Homo sapiens: one gene and its partners. The protein of the gene in region 3 purifies or fractionates together with the protein of the main gene of each other region. This does not show direct contact. Each region holds a gene or a part of one and is shown on either strand. Other genes may lie near its edges.

Region 1 (3,500 bases), on a different chromosome or scaffold from region 3:
AAAGACTGATGAAACTAAAGCCTAATTTTCGTTATGGAGGAAAAATGATACGTGGCTTTCGACTACATTCTGCTGGAAGTTCCGAGACCTGGGTTCTCGCCTAGCAGTCCCTGCTTCTTAATTCCTTGCTTATTCTGGGACAAGTCACCATCGGTCCCTGCCTCAGTTTCCTCAGCTGGATATATTATTTTAATCACTGTGAGAAAATAGAGGTGTTGATTTAACATTGATCATTTTCACATTTTGACAACCAGTTTACCTGCCTTTGCTCCCTTTCACAACTCTTCTTTCTCAATCTCTTGGTTTGTGGTAAATTCATTTCTATAATAGCTCAAGTTAAGAAGAGGGTCTTCTTTTCCTGTCATCCTGTGTAACAAAAATAGCCCAGGAATAGTGAGGAATGGTATCACTTATGCACAGATTCCAGAGTGTGAATGAGACTTTAGCGATGGCAGCACAGTGTAGCCACATGGAGAGGTGTGTGCGGCCCTGGTTTCACTTAAGTGATGATGTGTGAGGGAGACTCGAGAGGAAGGCCCCAGCACCTGCCCAGACAGCACAGTGCCAGAGAAAAGCATTCAGTGATCATGATAGCACCTGTGAGGTTTTGTTTTTCCTTCTTAACAAGCGTTAGTCTTTTGACCACTTGAAGATTTTATGACCCCAGTTTATATAAGAAATGTACTTAATTTGTCATTAAAATTTAGTTTCCAGAGGCTTTTTAGTATGATATGTCAGATATCCTTTTTGAAGAATATATGTATGAAAATGATTGTAAATACAAATCTTCTTCGGATTTGGGGATCAGTTGCTATGTGGGGATAGTGTAAATGCTTCTGCACAAGCTTACGGTTCCACTTCGGATCCCCTCAGATTGTTACCAGCGCTTAGAATTCCTGGGAGATGCGATTTTGGACTACCTCATAACCAAGCACCTTTATGAAGACCCGCGGCAGCACTCCCCGGGGGTCCTGACAGACCTGCGGTCTGCCCTGGTCAACAACACCATCTTTGCATCGCTGGCTGTAAAGTACGACTACCACAAGTACTTCAAAGCTGTCTCTCCTGAGCTCTTCCATGTCATTGATGACTTTGTGCAGTTTCAGCTTGAGAAGAATGAAATGCAAGGAATGGATTCTGAGGTTAGTGCTGTTCAAAACGATGTTGAAAAAAGTGGTCTAACTAGGAGTCTCTGTAGTTTCAGAGTTCTGACGGCATAGTGGTCTAAAGGGACAGCAGGAGGTCAGGGGTGTGGGACCCAGTGTGCTGTGTTCTGTGGGAGCACGAGTGAACTGCAGTTTGCAGGTAGGCCTCTTGAACTTGTCTGCCCCCACTGTGGGCTGTGTGGTCATTCAGGTGAAGAGAAGGAACCAGGCCTTTCAGTTAGGTACCCTTCCCACGCCTTCATGAGGGCTTCCAGCATTGAGGCATGCCAAAGAAGTGGCCTCCACTGCCGGACCCCAAGGCAGGTTTAGCTTTAGTAAAAGCCCAGTGTAGCTTATCCTTCCTTTTTTAAATGGATCAGAAATATTTGCTAATATCTCAGGGAAGCATCATAAATATACATTCTGCTTCTACTTGAAGTGGGAAAATCTAATTTAAAAAACAAACTTCTAAATTTTTGACCATTGGAATTTGGGAGGCTTCTATTGTAAGTTCAGCCAAAGGCTGTCTGGTGACAGAGCTAATTCTAATGTGTTTGTGAGCTATTTCGAATTTTTGTAGGAAAGGATATTGCTTAGATCTTTCCAGTCTCTTAACATTCATCTGCATACCTGTGTCCCCCAGAGAGACTCTCATTTCCTCCTCTTCCCATTTCATTTCCTTTGATTTTCTTATTTTTGTAGATTTTCTTATAAGGAGTCAGGAAATACAACCTTAATACTAGTAGCTGTTTTAGTTGTCATTGCTTTAATTTGTACCTTCCCCTTTTTAATTGCACCAAACCTTTGTTGGGGAGTAGTGACTTTCTATGACAAAAATTAAGAGTAGGTTTGAAGTCTAGCCGCAGAGCCGAGTTCACGCCCTGCCAGCTGCCCAGATGTGCACTGGAGGAGTCAGTAGGCCCTGCTCTTACTTTAACGCGCCTCTGTGCTCTTGTCCAAGATGAACAGCCTGAGCTGGAGCGTGGCAGGCTGTGAGGCGAGAAGGCGGGACCAGCTCGTAGACTTCCAAGTGTTACCTAGTCTCATTCTTTAGAAATAGCTAAGCTTGAAATTTGAGGAATTAGTTAAAATTAGATTTAAGCTCTCTTTGGATGCCAGTGGGGCATATTGGTTTTGTTAGTTTTTGTTCATTCTTTTCCTTCCCTTTGTTTATATAAACATATGTATAGAAGTTACAAGAACTGATTGGAAATGTCATGGTCTGGCATTTCTAACTTACTATTTGATCTTAAGAAAGTCTCTTTACCTCTCTGGGCCTCCGTTTCCTCAGCTGTAAAAAGAGAGAATTAAACTTGGTAAGTTTTAAAATTCCTTTCTATCTCAAAACCATAAATATGAACAATAAGTCTGTTTTTTTAAGTAATCAGCAGTATAAATGTATTATATGTAACTTTGTATGGCTAAACAACCTATTAGAAATTAGTATTTTCCCACTTTCTCTTTATTTTTTTCACAAATGATTTGTGTTGATTTTAGAAAAGTTAGTACAAGTAAATAAGAAGAAAATTAGTTAAATTTGCCTGATTATGCTACCTCGGAAATAACCAATATTAACATTTTGGGAGGAATTGTGGATGTGTATAGATATAAACATATCTAAAATGTAAAATGGAATTCTGTTATGTATAGGATACTGTCACCTGTTCTTTTCACGTATAATATATTGTGGCTGACTTTCCGTGTATTGATGGGTATCGTGATGCTCAGGGGCCACACGCTAGTCAACACGTGGCTGATTGATTTAAACGCTTCTTTATGGCCGAGTAATTAAGTAGTTTTTGGTTAGGATGTTTAATAACCATGGAGGTGATAAATACGCTTATGTATCTAGTTACCTCCTTAAAATAAGTTCTTAGAGATGCAATTGCTGCATCAAAGAATTGTGAACTTTTCAAAGGCTTTTGATGCATGATTTTCTTTTATTAATTTGCATACATGCTATGTCAGATACTCGGTTATAGTGAACACATATCTAGTGGCTTAATGAAGAGGGAACTTGGAGGAAAAAATCTTTCAAATATAATTTCCCTATTTCCCTACAACAGCGATTTCTGCTCCCCAAAGCAGCATACACCCGTGCCAGCACCAGACCAATTAGTACTATTGAATGCTTGCCAAGCAGCTAGGGAGTAGAACTGTTTTAAAGTATAGTTCTTTGATTACGAGTGAATTTGAATTTTTTTCATACTTTTATTGACTATTTCTAATTCTTTGTTAAGGTTGTTTAAAGTTAGAAGTAATCTTTTTTCTTTGCTGGGTATATAGAATAATAAATGGGGTGGGGATATTTTTTCTTTTTTTCTTGAGAAGTTTGAAAAACTTTTTTAAAAATAT
Region 2 (3,500 bases), on a different chromosome or scaffold from region 3:
AGCAATGATGAGTGGCATTATCAGTTTATGTTAGGGAACTTCAGATAATTGAGAGCTATACAAATTTTCCCTTTCAAATATATGAGGCTGTTATTTTTTACAACCATAGACACCAAATATAGCCATTATTCTTTTTCTTCTCTATTTTGAACAGATACTCAGAACTAACCACTGTTCAACAACAGCTAATTAGGGAGACGCTCATATCATGGCTGCAAGCTCAGGTAAAATCATAATTTCATTCAGTACCTCAAATTATTAGATATTTAAACTTATTTTTTGCAAGAGTTTGGAACTTTACCTCAAAGATTTTCATCAGTGTTCCTCCATTTGATTTCATAGCTTTTTTAAAAGGTGCTGGTTTTAAAGATCATGGAAGTGGTAGTTTAGCAATAATTTAATATTATATCAATGACTGAAATGGTCATAGTTTCCATGACACATTGTGGAAACTTTGGTTTTAAAATGTAGTTGTTTTTAACTACTTGACAAATGCTGCTTTCTGTTTGGCTCTTAAAGGTGAGCCCTCCTGGACAGCCTCTCCACCAGAGCCCTTTATAAAGGGCCAGTTGAGTTCTTTTCAGTTAATTTTAGCTAATCTTAACACATAAAGCAGTTGTGTAGCTAGAGTTTTCATTTTCCTTAAAGAGCAAGTAGAGGAAAATTTTTTTTTCTTCTTAGAAGAAATTATAGGAACTATTAAAACTCTGCACATGAAACTTTTCTGTCAAAGTGTAAGAATGAGGAATAATCATTACAGCCTTTAATGGTTCATTTAATTGTTCTTCATCTGGTCAATCACTTAAATACTTTTGATAATTTTGATAATCATAATTATCAAAATAATTTTGAAGAGTATTTGTTGCATAGTTTATCTGGGCCATGTTGACATTTGATGAAACTTTGCCTTTTAATAAGACAACTGGTGTTTCTGGGTCTTTTCAATTTACATTTAATTTTATGGACTGTTTCTCTGTTTGTCAGATGCTGAATCCCCAACCAGAGAAGACCTTTATACGAAATAAAGCCGCCCAAGTCTTCGCCTTGCTTTTTGTTACAGAGTATCTCACTAAGTGGCCCAAGTTTTTTTTTGACATTCTCTCAGTAGTGGACCTAAATCCAAGGGGAGTAGATCTCTACCTGCGAATCCTCATGGCTATTGATTCAGAGTTGGTGGATCGTGATGTGGTGCATACATCAGAGGCAAGTAACTAACCATGAATTTTTTATATTTAATGTAAGTTTTGTAGGTGATAATGGGCACATAATAAAAAGAGCAGGGAAGTTTTCTTTCTTGAGGTAAACTTTCTTAAGTTATATAATTATAAATTTACCTGATGTTTTGGATTTTATTTTATGAAGGAACTCAAACTTGGTTATTTTTTTTCCAGAGGTATATTGAAATTAAAGTATTACATTACATTTTTTATTTTTTTACTTTTTTGAGACGGAGTCTTGCTCTGTTCCCCAGGCTGGAGTGCAGTGGCACAGTCTTGGCTCACTGCAACCTCCGCCTCCTGGGTTCAAGCGATTCTCCCACCTCAGCCTCCCTAGTAGCTGGGATTATAGGCACATGCCACCACGCCTGGCTAATTTTTGTATTTTTTGTAGAGATTGGGTTTCGCCAGGCTGTGCTCAAACTCCTGACTTCAGGTGATCCGCCCGCCTTGCCCTCCCAAAGTGTGGGGATTACAGGCATGAGCCACTGCGCCCAGCCTAAATTTTTTTTAACTAGGCAAATACTGTAGTGACATACACGAGTTGATTTTCTTTTATGAATCTGTTGAGAAAGGTAGTCTCAATTTAATACTGCTATATAGTCCCTGAGCAAGGAAGAAGCATTGCTTAGGAGTTGTCCGTGTTGCTACTTCTGTATTCTTCATCACATAGTGTAAGTACTATGTTACTATATTGAGAAATAACTTAAAATATGCTTAAGATTTCTAAGCAGTGCTTTTTATAGTTTGTATTTACTAAGAAATTAACTCTGACACTGAGGAGTAGAACAGAAAGAGGAAATACAAAGAATCACAGGATATGATCTTAGAGCTGGTAAATAGGAAATACTGGTAGGGAATGTGTTAACAAGTCTGAAAGTTTACTCTCTGCAAGTATATTCAGATATCAAACATGATTTTGTAAGGTAATCTACTTTGCATTTGGCGTTTTGTATTTTAGGAGGCTCGTAGGAATACTCTCATAAAAGATACCATGAGGGAACAGTGCATTCCAAATCTGGTGGAATCATGGTACCAAATATTACAAAATTATCAGTTTACTAATTCTGAAGTGACGTGTCAGTGCCTTGAAGTAGTTGGGGCTTATGTCTCTTGGATAGACTTATCCCTTATAGCCAATGATAGGTAAGTATGCCTATTATTTTTATAGTATAAACTTGTAAAATACAGTATCTAAAACTCATGACTTTGAAAATGTTACAATTTTATTGTCCCATTACCAGGTTTATAAATATGCTGCTAGGTCATATGTCAATAGAAGTTCTACGGGAAGAAGCATGTGACTGTTTATTTGAAGTTGTAAATAAAGGAATGGACCCTGTTGATAAAATGAAACTAGTGGAATCTTTGTGTCAAGTATTACAGTCTGCTGGGTTTTTCAGCATTGACCAGGTTGGTAAATTTATATAAAACATTGTATGTAAAGTTGTTAGAACAAACTGGGATAGGTACTAAGTTAAATATAATAATAGCTTTTTTTCTTCTAAATGTTATAAACTCCCCTTGAGATTATAATATAAACCACTGCATCTAGCCAAAATGTTCTCAGTAGCATTCTCCTTGGAGAATGGGTTATACCAGTTCTTAAACCTGAAAGCCTGTAATTGCACATTTCTCACAAACTCTTAGGAGATGCTGACACAACTTGTTCATAGTGGAATTGAGATTTTTTGTTTTGTTTTGTTTTTTGAGATGGAGTCTCACTCTGTTGCCCAGGCTGGAGTGCAGTGGCACAGTCTCGGCTCACTGCAACCTCCGTCTCCCGGGTTCAAGTGATTCTCCTGTCTCAGCCTTCCGAGTAGCTGAGATTACAGGCGCATGCCACTACACCCGGCAAATTTTTTACCTTTTTGGTAGAGACGGGGTTTCACCATGTTGGCCAGGCTTGTCTCGAACTCTTGACCTCAGGTAATCCACCCACTTCGGCCTTCCAGAGTGCTGGGATTACAGGCATAAGCCACCGTGCCCAGCCTGGAATTGTTAAATATATGACGTCATTTTAAAATTGAATCCTGTAATTAGCACTTGATTCATATTAAAGTTCAGTTTTTCCTCTTAGCTTGGGCAGGCAGTTTTAAACAGAGATGTGTCTTGATTGCTTATAGGAAGAAGATGTTGACTTCCTGGCCAGATTTTCTAAGTTGGTAAATGGAATGGGACAGTCATTGATAGTTAGTTGGAGTAAATTAATTAAGAATGGGGATATTAAGAATGCTCAAGAGGCACTACAAGCTATTGAAACAAAAGTGGCACTGATGTTGC
Region 3 (3,996 bases):
GGGTTCTGAAATCCCACGCAGCTGGGGGCAGGGCGAGGGCAGCTCCAGCGCAGTGACGCTGTCTCCACCCACCTCAACTTCTCTGCTTGAGTTTGGGAGTTCACTGCCAACAATTCTTGTGGCTCAGACACCCCACGCACACCTGGGCCTCACCACATCCGGCAGCAGGGCTGGGGGAGGGCGGAATGGAGGGGATACCCAGGCCCCCAGTCCTCCGGGTGCAGTGCTAGCCCTGGACTTTGCTGCCCGGCGGGGCTGGACAGGGAGGCCTAGGATGGGGGAGGCCAGTTCTGTTCTGCTTCTCCCTCTTCCCCTTGCCAAGGTCTTGAAATCCCCGCAGGCCTGGGGAGGGCCGGGAGCGTCAGCGGACTTCCCTCCAGGGCGGGCTTGTGGCAGGGGGAAGTACTTCTCTCTGGGGCCTGGGGGCTTTCCCTGCACCCAGGAGGAAGAAGCTTTGCCCTACACATAACTGGAAACCAGTCACAGACCCCTGCTTTCCCCATGAAAGGCCCTGGGACCCCCCCTCATTTCCCTTCGGCCCAAGCCCAGGGGCCTGGGCCCCGGGGACTGTGTTCTGGCCTAGCTTGGCCACCAACCTACTGCAAGACCCTGAGTACTGGTCTTATCCAGGCAATGGGGGGTGGGGAGGGGGAGGAGAGAGAAAGTCCCTCTGGCTCAAGGTCTCCAAATAGATGAGAAATAGGACATCTCAGCAGGGACCCCCCCCATCATCCAGTGTAGAAATCACCCGTGGCAGCAGGCATTTGTCAATGTTTGTGGTGACAAATTTCTAAGAGGAAAATTCTGGGAGGGAAAGGGAAAAGGCAGAGGAAGCGTGGGGTTAGGGGGTGGGGTACTCCAAGGGTCATCGTTGGCCCTAAAGGGGGACCTGCATCTGAGAAGCTGGGTTCCCCAGGACTGAGTGGCTTGGGACAGGTCAAAGGGTGGGCGCAAAAACGGAGGGGTGCTAGTCCCTCCGACTCCGGGTAACACCTTCCCTTCCCTTAGTCGCTGGTCCCCGCCTCCTCCCGGTGTGTTGGTCCCCGCGCCCTGCCTTCCCCCTCAACCTCCCCCCCGCCCCGAAGTCTCCAGGTCAGCCCAGACTGCGCCCCACGTGAGGGGCGGGGGCGGGCGCGGGCGCCAGCGCCTTCCTGCTCTGCCCTTGTATGGTGCCCCGGAGGCCGGCCCACGGGTACTTAACCCGGGCCGCCGCGGAGGGCGCCCGGAGTCGACCGCTCGGGCAGCGCCACCGCCACGAGAGCCCGGGACGCGGGAAAGACCGAAAGGAAGAGGAAGAGGCACCGGTGGCCATGGGGCTGGAGGCGGCGCGCGAGCTGGAGTGCGCGGCGCTGGGCACGCTGCTGCGGGATCCGCGGGAGGCGGAACGCACGCTGCTGCTGGACTGCCGCCCCTTCCTGGCCTTCTGCCGGCGCCACGTGCGCGCCGCGCGGCCAGTGCCTTGGAACGCGCTGCTGCGGCGCCGCGCGCGCGGCCCTCCTGCCGCCGTTCTCGCCTGCCTGCTGCCCGACCGCGCGCTGCGGACGCGCCTGGTCCGCGGGGAGCTGGCGCGGGCCGTGGTGCTGGACGAGGGCAGTGCCTCGGTGGCGGAGCTCCGGCCCGACAGCCCGGCTCATGTGCTGCTGGCCGCGCTGCTGCACGAGACCCGCGCGGGGCCCACTGCCGTGTACTTCCTGCGAGGTGAGCAAGCCGGCCGCCCTTGGCCCGCCCCACCCGACTCCAGCCCGGCTTTCCCTGCTGATCGTGCTCTTCCCCTCCTTGCAGGAGGCTTCGACGGCTTCCAGGGCTGCTGTCCCGATCTGTGCTCTGAGGCCCCCGCCCCTGCGCTGCCGCCAACAGGGGACAAAACCAGCCGCTCCGACTCCAGGGCTCCTGTCTACGACCAGGTGAGTATTGACCCCCCTCCCCCGAACCTCCCTCTCTCCCCGCCGCGGACTGGGCGCCTCTAGGGAAAGAGCCTGCCATTTGGGGATGCGAGCAGTTTGCCCATATACACACACTTTTATACGTGTGTGTGTTGGGGGAGGGGGTGGGGCATGGCTGCTCGCGCGTGCCTGTATGGGTCTGTGTATGTTTGCATGTGTATGTTGGGAGCATGAAGGGAAATGTATGTCCCGGTGTGTCCTCCGCACATTCCTGAGACCTGTCTCAGGTCAGGAGGACTGGCTGAGGAGTCCTCTTGTCTCGGCCAGCCCATGGGGTCTCCACCCGCTGCTGCTCCAGCTCTCCGGGGCTGGGCTGGAAAGGCCTCACCGCCCCTCTGTTCCCTCCAGGGTGGCCCTGTGGAGATCTTGCCCTACCTGTTCCTGGGCAGCTGCAGTCACTCGTCAGACCTGCAGGGGCTGCAGGCCTGTGGCATCACAGCCGTCCTCAACGTGTCCGCCAGCTGCCCCAACCACTTTGAGGGCCTTTTCCGCTACAAGAGTATCCCTGTGGAGGACAACCAGATGGTGGAGATCAGTGCCTGGTTCCAGGAGGCCATAGGCTTCATTGGTAAGGGGGCACCTCTGCCCAGAAATCCCGAGGGGCTCCAGAGGAGAGGACTGGGGGCACCTGTCTCCTGGGCTGTGCACATTCCGTCTGACACCACTCCCCCATCTCCCTTGCAGACTGGGTGAAGAACAGCGGAGGCCGGGTGCTGGTGCACTGCCAGGCGGGTATCTCGCGCTCTGCCACCATCTGTCTGGCATACCTCATGCAGAGTCGCCGTGTGCGGCTGGACGAGGCCTTTGACTTCGTTAAGCAGCGCCGGGGGGTCATCTCCCCCAACTTCAGTTTCATGGGGCAGCTGCTGCAGTTTGAGACCCAGGTGCTGTGTCACTGAGGTGGTGCCCCTCTGCCTGCCTGCCCCACTGTGCTGGCAGGAGCTGACTGTGGACTGGTGGGCTCCCCTCTGGGCCAGCACAGTCCCCTCACCTCTGGCAGGGCTGCTACCTCCTCAGAGTTTCAGAAGCCCCCACATGGGGGCTCTAGGAATGCCGGCATGCTGGTCTTTCCGACCTGGTGCTCTTCTGCTGGGGGACTGAGGCTGGCCCTCATTCGGGGTCGGGAACCAAGGGTGTGTCTGCTCTTTCCCTCCCCATCCTCTGGCAGAAATCAGCTAGACGCTATACCGTGGACTCTCCCTGGTCCACCACCATGTTGAAGCCCTTGGCAGCCTGAGAGCTCCAAGGAACAAGCTGTGACAACCAGGAGCCCTGTCTGTGGGTTCGTCTGCCCAGGGCCTGGAGCCCAAGCCCTGTGTTCCTGGGGAAGCTGGGGACTTGGGAAGTGATGGGTGTGTCATGTTGCGTGTGTCTGTCTGTGAGCCTTTCACACCTGTGCTGGCGCTGGAAAATTATTTGTGCTCAGCTGACATTTAACACTCCCTCCCCCGCTTCCTCCTAGCCCTGTGGGCAGGGGTTGGAAACTTAGCACTTTATATTTATACAGAACATTCAGGATATGTCAATAAAATATTGTTATATTTAAAAAACAACAACCCAGCATCTGGTCTCATCTGATACCCGGGAGCCTGCTTGGACCTCACGTTTCCTTGTGCCCTTGGGGTTTGGGAAGTGAATGGGCAGAGGGGCCAGCGGCCGGAAGGGGCAGGTCTGACCCTCCCCACAAAGGCTGCTCTCTTGGCCCCAGTTCTCCCTGGGCTGGCGTCTTTTCCCAGACAGGGACCTCGCTCCAGAGCTGAACAGGGTTGTTTCTGGGAGGCTGGGTCCCGTCCGTGACTCAGAGCCAGGCCCAGTGCTGCCCCGATCAGACCCCGCTTCCTTTTCGGAATGTGGAAGGATGCGAGTGTGTGCCTGAGGGTGTGGTCCTGTGGGGGTGGGTGGTCTTGGCCCATGCACACCTGCATGTTGCGCATGGTGTTCCTGTGGGAGCGTGTGTGCACGCCCACACAAGAGGCACTTCCCAGGCCGTGTGGGTCTCTACTTCCTCACAGCAGGCCTGCATGGCCTCCCTACTCTTCTCCCACATCCCAGG
Region 4 (3,145 bases), on a different chromosome or scaffold from region 3:
GTTTTATTATTTATGAAGTGGTTAGAAAAAAAAAATCTCTAATATTGTTCAACAAATTCAGATAGGAAAAATCTTCTCAGAATTGAAGTTTTGCTAAGAAGGGATTTAATCTTTCTTTGCCTGCCACCGGTGTATGTGTGTGATTGTGTGTGCACATATACTTGTTGCCCTCACCTTTACACTCTGCCCCTCTTAGAGCTTCACTAACTCTCAAATCTCTAACTTAAGTTTACACTTTTCTTCTGAGCTCTAGATATTTTCCAAATTTAACATGTTTAAAAAGTACATTTATTTCCCCCCGATTCTTCACTGCTCACTTTTATACCGACTGATTACAAAGAAAAACAGATGGAAAACACACACATACACAGAAAGCTTAACTGTTGTTCTATCTTCAGTAGCAGCAGCACCAGCAACCTTATCAAATAAGCAACATCTTCAGGGTTGTCTTGAACAGTTCTCATCACCCATCAAGTTTGCTGGCTGATCCTCTAATTTGTATTCTCCTCCGTGCCTACGGGCTGCTGATACCAACAAATTTTTTTTTAGAAAGTTATCTTTTTGCATTTTAAGCTTTACAGTTTGTTATTAGGACAGTCAGGATACTTGCTGAATGTTCACATGTATAAAATGTGAATTTTAAGACTTCACAATAAAACACTGAATGAATTACTATAACGTTATATTTAGCAAACATTGTTTACATTCCATATGTAGAACACTTTACATCTTAGTAAAGGGGAAGAGGAACAAGAGCAATAAAAGAAGTTGAAAAATATTTGCTGCTATTCATCAGTCAAATTAAGGAACTGAAGTACAAGCAATCAAATAGAATGGAATTATAAAAGATGGTAAAGCTGCAAGACATTAATAGAATAGATGCTTGCTGCTCCAAGTGTGGATCATGGACCAGCAGCTTTAGCATCACCTTGGAGGTTGTTAGAAATGCAGGACTTTAGGCCCCTGCTGAATCAGAATCTGCATTTTAACAAGATCCCCAACTAATTTGTATGCACATTAAAGTTCGAGAAGCCCTGGCCTCGATACTTGTGACCTAACATTGTTTTAAGTTTGTAGTGTGCTAACGAATTTAATCTCCCACAACAACCCCGTAAGGCAAGTACCATTGCTATTTCCCATTTTATAGTTGAAGAAACCTGTTTGACCGAGGTTCCTCAGGTAGTAAGTGGCAGAGCTGGAATTTACACCCAGACATTTTGCTTTTGTATTTCTCAGTTGACTATGCTGTACTCTCTATATAAAGGGCTAAGTGAATATGGACTAAAAGCAGCTTACAAATAGGGCTTGGCAAATAAGGAAAGACAACTTGAAGGTGAGATGTGGGTGCATGGCCCTAAACTCTACATTACATTTTTTTAAACACATTCACATGTTCATTTGAAGAAATGTATTATTCATTATTGCTGTCTAAAGAGATGAATTTGGTGACCGCATCTTTTTTCTAGAATGTCAAAGTGTTATTTATTTCTCTTAACAATGAGTAAATGATGTCTTTATTACTAAACAGGATTTATTAGAATCAAAGCAAAAGCAAACACTGTATTTGAATTGATACATAGTAAATGCTCAACTAGTTGGATTTTGTCCTTTTTTTTCTAAATCTGAATGACGCTTGAGTTAATAGCACTTAATGTCAGTGTGTGCACTGATGTTTTTAAGTTTGATTGCCCACTAATCTTTTTCATTTATACAGCAGACTGAGAGGAAGATGAATTGTTGAGCTATCTGCTTAGGGGTGAAAATACTAGAAAACTTTTAACACTTTGTGTCTTCTTGGGAAATTTTTCACAGAAGAATCCCAGAGGATTTGTTTTTGTTTTTGATCTATTCTTTCCAGATAACTGTAGTAATTGATTTAAGTTTTAATCTGTTACAGAGAAAAACACTAAAACTTTATAGACAAATGATAGACAAATGGCATATACTCAAATATTTATAGCTGTTTAATGGCATTTTATAGACATTTATTTGGGTTTTGTTCTTATTTTTGTTTTTAATTAAGGGAGTAGTGGGGTAGATGTGAGTTCATTGTGGCATTCAGCTTATATTTGCTTGGCTTTTTCATGGTCGGTGACACCCTAATTCCTAGCATGATAAATAGTAACCCTTTGTGCTTGATTTTGTTTAACTTATTTGAGTTGTTTTCAAAATACATTCTTTTTAATTTAAAAAATCAGCTAAGCTTGTGTATGGTTAAGTTTTTGTTTTGTTTTGTGTTTGATTTGTTCTTTTAGGGAAAAAATCCTATAAAATGGCTATTAAATTTTTAGCCAATGACAATGAGATTTTCTTAATATTACTTTGAATTCTTTACCTCTTAATTCTTAGAGTATGTGGTTTTGTTGTTCTGTAGTGTCTTACTAAAATATTCATTTTTTTACAGTGTATTGCAAGTTCCACTGCATTACATGCAAATATGATTCACTCATACCTAGCTGTTTGTGGATTCAAACTCATAAATGAACCATTTTTAAGTTGTTAATAGTGTACTGACATATTTCTGTATTTTCTGATATTTACAGATTCGAGTGGTGAATGCATTTCGTAGTTCTTTATATGAAGGGTTAGAAAAACCGGAATCAAGAAGTTCGATTCACAACTTTATGACACATCCTGAGTTTAGGATAGAAGATTCAGAGCCTCATATCCCCCTTATTGATGACACTGATGCCGAAGATGATGCTCCTACAAAACGTAACTCCAGTCCTCCACCCTCTCCCAACAAAAATAACAATGCTGTTGACAGTGGAATTCACCTTACAATAGAAATGAACAAGTCTGCTACCTCTTCATCCCCAGGAAGCCCACTACATAGTTTGGAAACATCACTCTGATTGTAAGCTGAATGTTAACACACTAGCTGCATTGTAAAGAAACAAATTGAAACTGGGTCTTTTCACATATTGTGATGGACAAGCTAGTATTCTTGTCTTTGGACTTCAACAGAAGACACACTTGTACGAATGTAGATTTATTTTTTTAAAAAAAAAAAAGCAAAGCTTTCTGCCAGACTGAGGGTGCTTTTTGGGGGGTGGGAGAAATGAACTGACAGATAAACAGTAACTCAGCGTAAGTGACCTGTGGATCATCAGTAGTACCCAAGCATGGTCCTGAACAGTGTATT
Region 5 (3,500 bases), on a different chromosome or scaffold from region 3:
GTGGAGGAGCCGTCCCCCCAGCTCCCAGCCGACCGTTTCTCCCCCGAGTTTGTGGACTTCACTGCTCAGTGGTGAGTCTTGGGTGCTGCTGAGCGCCTGCCACTGCCCCTCCCTGGCCAGATCCCTGCACCTTCCTGGGCCCTGTTCCTTTATTCCTTTGGCAAATAAACCCCCAGATGACTTGGCATCCAAATATGTAAGGCAGAAACAGCTGGAGCATGAGGAGCATTTGACAAAACGATGGTCTTGGTGGGAGATTTTAATACAGTTCTTCCAGAAGTGGACAAATCAGATAGACTGAAAAAGAGAACAAAGTATATGGAAAATTTGAACACAAAAAACAAGTTTGCTTTTATTGATATCTAGAACTTTGTACCAAATTAAAGAATGCCCCATAGGAGCCTTATAAAAATCATGTTTGAGAGGCTGGGCACGGTGGCTCACGCCTGTAATCCCAGCACTTTGGGAGGCCGAGGCAGGCGGATCCCGAGGTCAGGAGTTTGAGACCAGCCTGACCAACATGGTGAAACCCCGACTCTACTAAAAATAGGAAAATTAGCCGGGCGTGGTGGCGCATGCCTATAATCCCAGCTACTCAGGAGGCTGAAGCAGGAGAGTCGCTTGAACCCGGGAGCCGGAGGTTGCAGTGAGCCTGAGCCGAGATCATGCCACTGCACTCCAGCATGGGTGACAGAGTGAGACTGTCTCAAAAAAAAAAAAAAATCATGTTTGAGGTTACAGAAGGAATAAGGAAGAGGGCAACTTCTCTGAACTTAATTAAATAGAGCAAGAATTGGGTAAGGAAGAAGCGGCCGGGTGCGGTGGCTCACACCCATGGTCCCCGCACTTTTATTGTTGACCATAATCAGCAACAGAGGAGCCCAGCAGAGTCCCTGGGCAGTCTGACCCCTTTAATTGTGGACTAACTTCTCCCAGAACCCATGATAAGGAGTTTCTCTCCTGATTGAGGATACCAAGTGTGTGACTGTTAGGCAGAGCATTGCAGCCCCATTTTGGTGTTGATATGGAAATTCCTAGGTCACTATGCAGACAAGAAAACCAGGACCCCAGGAGCCAGAGAAACTTGCTGCAAGTCTCTAGTTTGCTCCTATGAATGCCCCTCCACCCTGGAAGAAGCCCTAGACAGTCCTGTCCCTTCTTCCCTGGGTGCACGTGTCCCCTGCTGCTAGGCCTGGGGCAATCCTGGGGTGGTTTGGCTGGCCCTTGGGGGCTGGGCTTCCTCCCTGCCAGCCTGGCCACAGCTGCACTATTCTCTCCTAGCCTGAGGAAGAACCCCGCAGAGCGTATGAGCTACCTGGAGCTGATGGTGAGTATGGGCGGGAGGTGCCTGCCCTGCTCTTCAGGGCTGGCTGGGGCTGGGTGGGGCTCTGGGGAGAGGGCTGCATCCTGCACACAGATGGGTAGCTCCTCTGGCTGGCCCTGTGTTCTCTCCTTTAGGTGCTCGGTCATTTGTTTGCTCCTGCATACCTGGCTCCCTCCTCCCTCCTTCCTGCATGCCAGGCCCTGGGAAGGGTACACAGGCAGTGTGTGACAGAATGGGGCAGAGGGGCCAAGGGTGGCATCAGGGAAGGCTTCATGGAGGAGGTACCATTTGAACTGAGCCTGGAAGGATGAATAAGGGTTATCTCCTGATGGAGAGGCTGTCCCAAGCAGAAGGTCCAGCATGGGCAGAGGCCTGACGTGTGGGGGGAAAGGGAGGTTAGTGTGGCTGGAGAGTGACCACAAGAGAGCTGAGGAGGAGCCACAGATGCCATCTGTGACAGTCATGGAGGGCCTCCTGGGGGTGGAGGTCCTAGAAGGATGAGTAGGATTTTGCCAGTCAGGAGAACACTTGGGCTGGAGCTGGTTGGGGAAGAGTGGCCACCTCTCCCTCCCGCTACCCCTCCATGGTGACTGTGCCTTCTGTCACCCCCAGGAGCACCCCTTCTTCACCTTGCACAAAACCAAGAAGACGGACATTGCTGCCTTCGTGAAGGAGATCCTGGGAGAAGACTCATAGGGGCTGGGCCTCGGACCCCACTCCGGCCCTCCAGAGCCCCACAGCCCCATCTGCGGGGGCAGTGCTCACCCACACCATAAGCTACTGCCATCCTGGCCCAGGGCATCTGGGAGGAACCGAGGGGGCTGCTCCCACCTGGCTCTGTGGCGAGCCATTTGTCCCAAGTGCCAAAGAAGCAGACCATTGGGGCTCCCAGCCAGGCCCTTGTCGGCCCCACCAGTGCCTCTCCCTGCTGCTCCTAGGACCCGTCTCCAGCTGCTGAGATCCTGGACTGAGGGGGCCTGGATGCCCCCTGTGGATGCTGCTGCCCCTGCACAGCAGGCTGCCAGTGCCTGGGTGGATGGGCCACCGCCTTGCCCAGCCTGGATGCCATCCAAGTTGTATATTTTTTTAATCTCTCGACTGAATGGACTTTGCACACTTTGGCCCAGGGTGGCCACACCTCTATCCCGGCTTTGGTGCGGGGTACACAAGAGGGGATGAGTTGTGTGAATACCCCAAGACTCCCATGAGGGAGATGCCATGAGCCGCCCAAGGCCTTCCCCTGGCACTGGCAAACAGGGCCTCTGCGGAGCACACTGGCTCACCCAGTCCTGCCCGCCACCGTTATCGGTGTCATTCACCTTTCGTGTTTTTTTTAATTTATCCTCTGTTGATTTTTTCTTTTGCTTTATGGGTTTGGCTTGTTTTTCTTGCATGGTTTGGAGCTGATCGCTTCTCCCCCACCCCCTAGGGTACCAGCAGGCAGAGCCTTGCCCTCTGCTCAGGCTGGGGTCCAGTGGGAGGGGCCCAAGATCTCTGCTCAGAGAAGTGCAGGGGGAGCCTTCCAGCTCACTCTCCCTGAGGACTGGCTTGACAGGGGCTATGGGTTTGCTTTGGTGTTGTTTTTAAAAAAAGAAAATATATTTTTTTGAAAAAACGACTGCCCATCCCGGGTCCTTTCCCTGATGGGTTGGGGCAGTTACCTGGTTGCTGTTTTAATTAAAAAAAAAAAAAAAAAAAGGACTAAAGGTTGTGTGAGATTGTGTATGACACCTGTGAGCCCCCCTCTTACTTGGGGAAGGTTGTGGCCCTTCAAGGGACCCTTGTCTCTGGGCCAGGGGCAGGGTGTCGTGCTCAGGGGAGGGAGGACTGCCAACCTACCAGGCCCTTCTACATCTGAGGACACAGAGGCCCCCAGAGGGCTGTGATGAGGTAACATCCTGTGATCATCCAGGCACCAGGCCCTGTACTGACACTGGACAGAGCAGCGAACACACAGGTCCAGTCTGCTGGTGGCGGCCACCCATCCCACTGTCCTGAAGTAGTGATGACAGCCAGGTCACAGAGCAGCGAGCACCCTGCACACTTTGCCTGGGCTGGACACGGTGACCTCATGGAGGTTACCTGACCTCCAGTTTACAGATGGGAACAACAGACCCAGAGAGCTGACATCACTTACCCAAAGCCACACAGCTTATAAGACAGAAAAACAGACTTG
Region 6 (3,500 bases), on a different chromosome or scaffold from region 3:
CTTTCTCATTTAACAAATGAAAATAATCTATGCTCCCACTCAGCTTTATGAGGTCTAGTGTGGGGCAAATGAAGTACTAGAAGTATATGTGATTGGGGAGACAAAATGTGCCATCAATGCAATGTTTTATTATTAGCTTCAGCCCTCCTGAGGATATGTTTGTGCTACTCAATACGGTAGCCACTAGCCATGTGGCTATTGAGCACATGAAGTGTGGCTAGTGTGACTGAGGACTGAATTCTAAATATTATCTTTCTTTCTTTCTTTCTTCTTTTTTTTTTTTTTTTTGAGTCAGAGTCTCGCACTGTCACCCGGGCTGGAGTGCAATGGTGCAATCTTCCTCACTGCAACCTCCGCCTCCCAGGTTCAAGCTATTCTCCTGCCTCAGCCTTCTGAGTAGCTGGGATTACAGGTGCCCGCCACCATGCCTGGCTAATTTTTGTATTATTAGTAGAGATGGGGTTTCACTTTGTTGGCCAGGCTGGTCTTGAACTCCTGACCCCATGATCCGCCTGCCTCAGCCTCCCAAAGTGCTAGGATTACAGGCATGAGCCACCGAGCCCGGCCCTAAATATTATCTAAATCAAATTTAAATAGCCAAAATGTATTAGGAAGCACTGAAAACTAGAACTAGGGTAAGTCTGGGACAGGCTCTCTGAAAGAGGGAGACCAATGGTTGGACTAAAGTCAAGGGAATGTTGCCCTGGGACCAGAAGTCAGTATCTGATTAAAAAGGGAACAAAGGCCGGGAGCGGTGGCTCATGCCTGTAATCCCAGCACTTTAGGAGGCCGAGGCGGGTGGATCACCTGAGGTCAGGAGTTCGAGACCAGCCTGGCCAACATAGTGAAACCTCATCTCTACTACAAATAAAAAAAATTATCCGGGTGTGGTGGCGCATGCCTGTAGTCCCAGCTACTTGGGAGGCTGAAGCAGGAGAATCACCTGAACCTAGGAGGCAGGAGGCAGGGGTTGCAGTGAGCCAAGATCACGCCACTGCACTCCAGCCTGGGTAATAAAGTGAGACTCTGTCTCAAAAATAAAAAAAGGCAACGAAACCTTTACATAGAAAGATGTGCTGTAGTGTGTGTCATTTCAGCACCGCCTATGGTCATGGGGACATGGCTGCTCACCTGTGCAAGACTCAAGCAAGAACAGAACCTGCTGCAGGTCCGACTGACAGAGATCAATGTCATTGCGGGCCAGCTCCAGCTCGCCCTTCAGCACCAGGAACAGGGCACACCTTGTTGAGAGAGGAGAGGAGAACCAATCAGAGGAATCCTTTGTTTTCCTGGAGAGTCTTTCTCTTTGCCTCTTTCCCAGGCCAAGCTACCTGAGTCCTTCCCTGCCTCCAAAAGGCATTCACTCCCTTAAGCTGACTTAAAGGCTCCCTGGGGAAAACCCTCTACACTTCTCTCTAATCCCAACTCTCCTTGTGCCTTGGGACAGGATTTCCCAAACTGCATTCCTCAATAAAAGAATCCTGTGGGAAAACATTCTTAGGGAAACACTGTACACTAGATCTCCCTTTTGGAGATTTGCAAGGCACATCCGCATACTGAAGGACACGAGAGTCCTACAGGAAATAAAAACATCTAACCTTGATTAACTCAGCATTTCCCACTTATTTAGCTGTGGAATGCCTTTTTCCACGAATGTATCTAAACATAGCATGTAATCTGTGGAACAGTTTGGAATCCATGTTCAAGGGTGCATGGCACTTTGGTGCCATCATTGCCATATCCTCTGGCCCTGTACTTACTGGCGTGGTATCTGCAGCTTTGTTGTAAGTTTTAGGGCCTCCAAGCAAAAGGCCTTGGCTTCACTCACACTACCCAGGCGGCCCAGGTGGCAGACCAGCTTCTCTGAGCAGCTCAGCACCTCTGAAAGAACCTGCCATTTTTGTACCAGATTTTCACCTGTAGCAAAAGAGACAAGACCACCATCACTCAGCCACAGTGTGGATCCTCTGGAGAAAAAACCGCAGCCCTCTCACATAGCCTGTCCATTCCAAGAGGGCCCTGCTGTCCTCCCCAGACTCACCATAGTCCAAAAACGATGTCTCCACAGCTGCTTTCTGAGTTGAGAGAATGTCACTGCCCATCAGCAGGAGGATGATGCTTCGGAGGAGCTTATGGGAGTCTATGAGAGCTATCTCAGGTGTCTGCCAGCCTGTGGTGGGTGGGGTGAAAAAGGGAGAAGATGCAGCCAGAACTTCACCACTTTTAGCTACTAAGGCAGCAAAGCCTGCTTCCCATGCTTCCTTCTGCATTAAGGCAGGCAGAGCTAATCAATCTCATAACTCCTTCCCTCTGAGATCCCCTGGGGTCTCAGAATCCTTTCAGCTGGCTGGGCGCAGTGGCCCAAGCCTGTAATCCCAGCATTTTGGGAGGCTGAGGCAGACGGATCACCCGAGGTCAGGAGTTTGAGACCAGCCTGGCCAACATGGTGAAACCCCACCTCTACTAATAATACAAAAATTAGTCGGGCGTAGTGGCGCATGCCAGTAATCCCAGCTACTCAGGAGGTTGAGGCAGGAGAATCGTTTGAACCCAGGAGGCAGAGGTTGCAGTGAGCTGAGATTGCACCATTGCACTCCAGCCTGGGTGACAACAGCGAAACTCCGTCTTAGAAAAAAAAGAAAAGAAAAAAAAATCCTTTCAGCCTAGTATTCCAGGCAGTCACCAATTGTTTAGAGTCAGCAGGCAAACTGAAACCCATCTGCTATCCCAGGCCTACTCTGTGCAGGTTCTAGGTAGGCTGGGCCACATAGTTAGCCAGCAGAGGGGATGAGGTTTGAGAAGAGCTGACAGCAGACAGACCATACATGTCATCCAAGGGGGGCCATCCACCCTATTCTTTCACCTTGGGCACAGAGCTGCTCCCACAGGGAGTGTGAGAGGTTGTTTGACGGGAGGCTAAGGTAAGCTGCCACCAGCTGCAGGACCTGGACACGCAGCAAGTACCAAGCCTTGGAGGACTTCTGGAGGGCAGGATCCCGAAGCACAGACAGCAGCAGAGAGACACCCTTGGTCACCTGAAGGAGAGAAGGAGCCAGAGGAGGCAGTAAGGCAGTCAGGCACTCCAGAGCTTGAGAGGCCCTGGAGATTACGTGGCCCCATCCCTGAAGGCCCTGGGTATTAGAAAGATTTTAGAATTTTCTGAATATTTGCCTGGCTTTCGAGATCTCCCTGGACCTAGGCAGAATGTTCCTGACCCTGAGAAGCAGTAACAGTTCCTAGCTTTGCCCTCACCAGTGACTTGTCCGCCAATTTAGGAATGATAAAAACGTAGAGAAGAAACTAGAGCATGAGAAGGTAGAAGACGTGCCCAAGTCACACAACTAGTTTGGGAGAAAACTCAAGTCTTTGCCATCCCCTGGATTTCTAGTCCAGAGCTCCCATGCCTTCCCAGGATCACCATTGTCCCAGCTTTTCGTCACAGGACAGACTTTCCCCCTTGCCCCTGAAGAAGGAAAAGGACTGTATCTCTACCAGAGGAG
Region 7 (3,500 bases), on a different chromosome or scaffold from region 3:
CCGCTCCCGGCAGACTATCTTCCTGTCCTTGCTGTAGCTGCCCCAGCTCTGGCTCTGTCCATCCCACTGTTCTTTCTCTCTCTGCTCACAGTGCTGGGGGAAAGATGGCAGGGCCAGAGTAATAAGAGAGGCAGAATCTGACAAAGATCTTATGAACATGCCAGACCAGAAGCAGAGAGGCCAGTGGAAGCACTCATTTCCCAGAAACTAGATTATTTCATTAGTGATTAACAAAATAAGAAATTGAATTATGAGAGCCAGGAACCTCATGCCCCCGGAGGAGCTCCAGGCCAGCTGAGCAGGTTGGGTGGGGGTAGGCGTGAAGGAGGAAAATGCTGTGGGATTTGTTTCTGTATCCTGCCCCCCAGGAGCAGTATAGTTGCCTCCTCCTCATTGTCCCCACTCTCCTACTCCTTTAAGGGCTGGTACTGGAAAGTGGAGATGGTGCCTTCCTGACATATGTGGTCCTCCTTCTTCATCTTTTTCTCCTTTCTTTCTCTTTCTTCCTTCTCCTTCTCCTCCTCTCTCCCCTCCCAACAAATCCTTGGGGTCAGCAAGGGGCTGGAGCCCAGGATGGAGTGTGTCTGTCATATTTGAGACTTTCACCCCAGCCCCAGGAGTTCCAGTCCCTGGGCCATGCCATTTAGCCATAACCGAGGGTAGAAGCTGGCAGATCCTGGAACAGAAGTGGATGTGGCAGCTGCTGGGTGATGGTGGGGACCCCTGTGGATAGTGAGCTGAGCCGTTTGGGTAATACTATCATGCTTTGTCTCCCCAGCTCTGGCATTGCCCGTGACCCCTCAGAAAGAATGGCTGCACATGGACACTGTCGAGCTGGAGAAGCTCCACTGGACCCAGGACTTGCCCCCTGTCCGGCGGCAGCAGACACAGGAGGTGAGGAGGGCCACCTGGCCTACAAGGGGTGGGTGAGATAGGGCAGGAGAGGAGCTGCTGCTCTTGCCCTCAGAACTCAGGCCTTTCTATTGCCCAGAGCCTGAGAAGCATCTCTCCTTTGCTCTCACCCACCTTTACCATCACTCTGCCTGGCCCCCAAGGCCAGATAAGCCCCATTTCTGGTAGAAGTAGAGTCAGTACCTAAGTCCTGAAAGGCCTGGGATTAAAGGTGGGGAGTGGGTGTGGGAAGGTTGCTGGAGCCCCCAGACCACAGTCCTCTTTCTCTTCCCATTAGAGGATGCAGGCTCGATTCAGTCTTCAGGGAGAACTACTGGCCCCTGACGTGGACCTGCCCACCCACCTGGGTCTGCACCACCATGGAGAGGAGGCAGAGGTGAGGCATGGGACTGGAGAGGATGGGGCAGCTCTTTTAACAACCCCATGGAAAAGGATCTCTGGTCAACTGCCTTTGACCTTCTGTGTGCCCTGTTCTAGTTCATGCCTTTGCTGTGCATTCAGTTTCTTTTTTTGGAGACAGAATCTCGCTCTGGCCCAGGCTGGAGTGCAGTGGTATGATCTTGGCTCACTGCAGCCTCCACCTCCTGGGTTCAAGCCATTCTCCTGCCTCAGCCTCCTGACTAGCTGGGATTACAGGCGCATGCCACCACGTCCAGCTAATTTTTGTATTTTTAGTAGAGACGGGGTTTCACCATGTTAGCCAGGATGGTCTTGATCTCCTGAGCTTGTGATCCGCCTGCCTCGGCCTCCCAAAGTGCTGGGATTACAGGCGTGGCATTCAGTTTCTTAGGCTCAAAATCTTGATCCTCTCTCCGTATTCTGGTCAGTTGCTAGAATTTGCCGATCTTCTGTCACCTCCTCATGATGCCTCCTGCACTGTGGCCTTGCTTCCTTGGTCTGCTCACTCTCCATGCCCTCCATTCTCCGCCCCCCTGCCATTCCATGTCTCTCGGGGCTGCTGTGCTGATTTCTTCTGGCCCAGCTCAGGCCATGCCTTGCCTCCAGAAGTTTCCCAGCTTCCCTCTGCTCACAAAATAAGGTTCTGGTCTCAGCTGGGCAAGATATTCCTTCTACCTTTTGTCCCTGCTGACCCTGCTGCTCTGCCTCCTTCACTTCCTGCTACACCACTCTGCTGGCTTCTCCCCACATACCTCCTGTGCTCAGGGCCCTCCAGGACTCCACTCGCTCCAGGAAATGCCTTTGCCTTTTGCTCCATGTCAGGCCATCAAAGCTCTACCCATCCACTGAGACCAATTTAATTTTCCAGGTTCCCTTCTCTCTCTCTCCTGTCCGCCGGTCGCAAATTAAACATCAGTTATCACGTTCCTCTGCATCTGCCTCATGGCATGGTTACTTGTATGCAAGTCTTATCTTTACCGGCTTGAGGCTCCATGGAAAGCAGGGCAGATTTCACTTATTTATCTTTGTCTTTCCTGTGATACCTTGCTTGGTGTTTTGGGGGCACTGTGCTGTATCCTGGCTGCTTCTGACTTCTTGTCCCTGCCCCAGAGAGCGGGGTATTCCCTACAGGAGCTGTTCCACCTGACCCGCAGCCAGGTTTCCCAGCAGAGAGCACTGGCACTGCATGTGTTAGCCCAGGTCATCAGCAGGGTGAGTGGATTGCCAGCCTGGTCCTGCCCACCCTTCCCTTCACCCCACAGCCTCAGACTTCCCCATCTCCTGCCCTTTTCACTCTGGCTCACTAGCCAGCTATGTGCTTTTAACAACCTAGGATCATAGGGGGGCAAACGAAGGATTAGGGCAAAGCCTCTAGATAACTTCAGCATCTTCAGCAAGGTTTTACCCTCCTGCCCTCAGGCCCAGGCTGGTGAGTTTGGGGACCGGCTAGCAGGCAGTGTCTTAAGCCTCCTTTTGGATGCTGGTTTCCTCTTCCTACTGCGCTTCTCCTTGGATGACAGAGTGGATGGGGTCATTGCAACCGCCATCCGTGCTCTTCGGGCTCTGCTGGTGGCTCCTGGAGATGAGGTACCACAGGGATAGGAATGGGGCTTGGGCTGGGAGGTGCCAGGGTCCATATTCCTGTTCCTGGGCATGGCCCCATTGCTAAGGCTTTGCGGGCAAGATGTAGAATGGGATGGCAGGCGTCTCCCTCATCTCCTAAAGTCCCTAAAGCCCAGGAGGCTTGCCTTTATGGTTTTTATTGGGGAGCATCCTCTCTACTCCTGGATCCATTTCCTGGCCCCTTCAGCATTGCCCCCCAACTCCCGTTCCTCTGGCAGGAGCTCCTCGACAGCACCTTCTCTTGGTACCATGGAGCTTTGACGTTCCCTCTGATGCCCAGCCAGGAGGACAAGGAGGATGAGGACGAGGATGAAGAATGCCCAGCAGGAAAAGCAAAAAGGAAAAGCCCTGAAGAAGAAAGCCGGCCTCCACCTGACCTGGCCCGACATGATGTCATCAAGGTAAAGGGACAGCTTCTTTCCCATCCCATGGCCCAGGGGACAAGCACATGCTGGAAAGAGGGGCCATCAATGCCCAGGGTCCAGCTGCATTTGTCAGTGGGTTTCTCTCTCCAACTCCCAGGGGCTCCTGGCTACCAGCCTGCTGCCTCGGCTGCGCTACGTGCT

Evidence for each region.
Region 1: the proteins of DUSP2 (region 3) and DICER1 purify together in Homo sapiens (affinity purification with mass spectrometry, with the first as the bait; one large-scale study listed by BioGRID). This does not show direct contact.
Region 2: the proteins of DUSP2 (region 3) and XPOT purify together in Homo sapiens (affinity purification with mass spectrometry, with the first as the bait; one large-scale study listed by BioGRID). This does not show direct contact.
Region 4: the proteins of DUSP2 (region 3) and ATP2B1 purify together in Homo sapiens (affinity purification with mass spectrometry, with the first as the bait; one large-scale study listed by BioGRID). This does not show direct contact.
Region 5: the proteins of DUSP2 (region 3) and MAP2K3 purify together in Homo sapiens (affinity purification with mass spectrometry, with the first as the bait; one large-scale study listed by BioGRID). This does not show direct contact.
Region 6: the proteins of DUSP2 (region 3) and ESPL1 purify together in Homo sapiens (affinity purification with mass spectrometry, with the first as the bait; one large-scale study listed by BioGRID). This does not show direct contact.
Region 7: the proteins of DUSP2 (region 3) and RPAP1 purify together in Homo sapiens (affinity purification with mass spectrometry, with the first as the bait; one large-scale study listed by BioGRID). This does not show direct contact.

The regions. Positions count from the first base shown.
Region 1 is NC_000014.9:95,091,530-95,095,029, reverse strand, and holds part of DICER1 (endoribonuclease Dicer), read left to right. Parts: intron 1-873; coding exon 874-1,142; intron 1,143-2,335; exon of another isoform or gene 2,336-2,461; intron 2,462-3,500. UniProt on the Homo sapiens protein: Double-stranded RNA (dsRNA) endoribonuclease playing a central role in short dsRNA-mediated post-transcriptional gene silencing.
Region 2 is NC_000012.12:64,417,892-64,421,391, forward strand, and holds part of XPOT (exportin-T), read left to right. Parts: intron 1-154; coding exon 155-224; intron 225-984; coding exon 985-1,203; intron 1,204-2,178; coding exon 2,179-2,363; intron 2,364-2,461; coding exon 2,462-2,630; intron 2,631-3,343; coding exon 3,344-3,500. UniProt on the Homo sapiens protein: Mediates the nuclear export of aminoacylated tRNAs. In the nucleus binds to tRNA and to the GTPase Ran in its active GTP-bound form. Docking of this trimeric complex to the nuclear pore complex (NPC) is mediated through binding to nucleoporins.
Region 3 is NC_000002.12:96,142,669-96,146,664, reverse strand, and holds DUSP2 (dual specificity protein phosphatase 2), read left to right. Parts: upstream 1-1,224; 5' UTR 1,225-1,310; coding exon 1,311-1,698; coding exon of another isoform or gene 1,699-1,782; coding exon 1,783-1,904; intron 1,905-2,291; coding exon 2,292-2,511; intron 2,512-2,627; coding exon 2,628-2,842; 3' UTR 2,843-3,496; downstream 3,497-3,996. UniProt on the Homo sapiens protein: Dephosphorylates both phosphorylated Thr and Tyr residues in MAPK1, and dephosphorylation of phosphotyrosine is slightly faster than that of phosphothreonine. Can dephosphorylate MAPK1.
Region 4 is NC_000012.12:89,590,694-89,593,838, reverse strand, and holds part of ATP2B1 (plasma membrane calcium-transporting ATPase 1), read left to right. Parts: intron 1-2,543; coding exon 2,544-2,855; 3' UTR 2,856-3,145. UniProt on the Homo sapiens protein: Catalyzes the hydrolysis of ATP coupled with the transport of calcium from the cytoplasm to the extracellular space thereby maintaining intracellular calcium homeostasis.
Region 5 is NC_000017.11:21,312,211-21,315,710, forward strand, and holds the end of MAP2K3 (dual specificity mitogen-activated protein kinase kinase 3), read left to right. Parts: coding exon 1-71; intron 72-1,281; coding exon 1,282-1,327; intron 1,328-1,936; coding exon 1,937-2,020; coding exon of another isoform or gene 2,021-2,100; 3' UTR 2,101-3,022; downstream 3,023-3,500. UniProt on the Homo sapiens protein: Dual specificity kinase. Is activated by cytokines and environmental stress in vivo. Catalyzes the concomitant phosphorylation of a threonine and a tyrosine residue in the MAP kinase p38.
Region 6 is NC_000012.12:53,281,799-53,285,298, reverse strand, and holds part of ESPL1 (separin), read right to left. Parts: intron 3,036-3,500; coding exon 2,864-3,035; intron 2,171-2,863; coding exon 2,042-2,170; intron 1,918-2,041; coding exon 1,761-1,917; intron 1,242-1,760; coding exon 1,132-1,241; intron 1-1,131. UniProt on the Homo sapiens protein: Caspase-like protease, which plays a central role in the chromosome segregation by cleaving the SCC1/RAD21 subunit of the cohesin complex at the onset of anaphase. During most of the cell cycle, it is inactivated by different mechanisms.
Region 7 is NC_000015.10:41,527,258-41,530,757, reverse strand, and holds part of RPAP1 (RNA polymerase II-associated protein 1), read left to right. Parts: intron 1-778; coding exon 779-894; intron 895-1,189; coding exon 1,190-1,288; intron 1,289-2,421; coding exon 2,422-2,523; intron 2,524-2,730; coding exon 2,731-2,898; intron 2,899-3,152; coding exon 3,153-3,335; intron 3,336-3,456; coding exon 3,457-3,500. UniProt on the Homo sapiens protein: Forms an interface between the RNA polymerase II enzyme and chaperone/scaffolding protein, suggesting that it is required to connect RNA polymerase II to regulators of protein complex formation.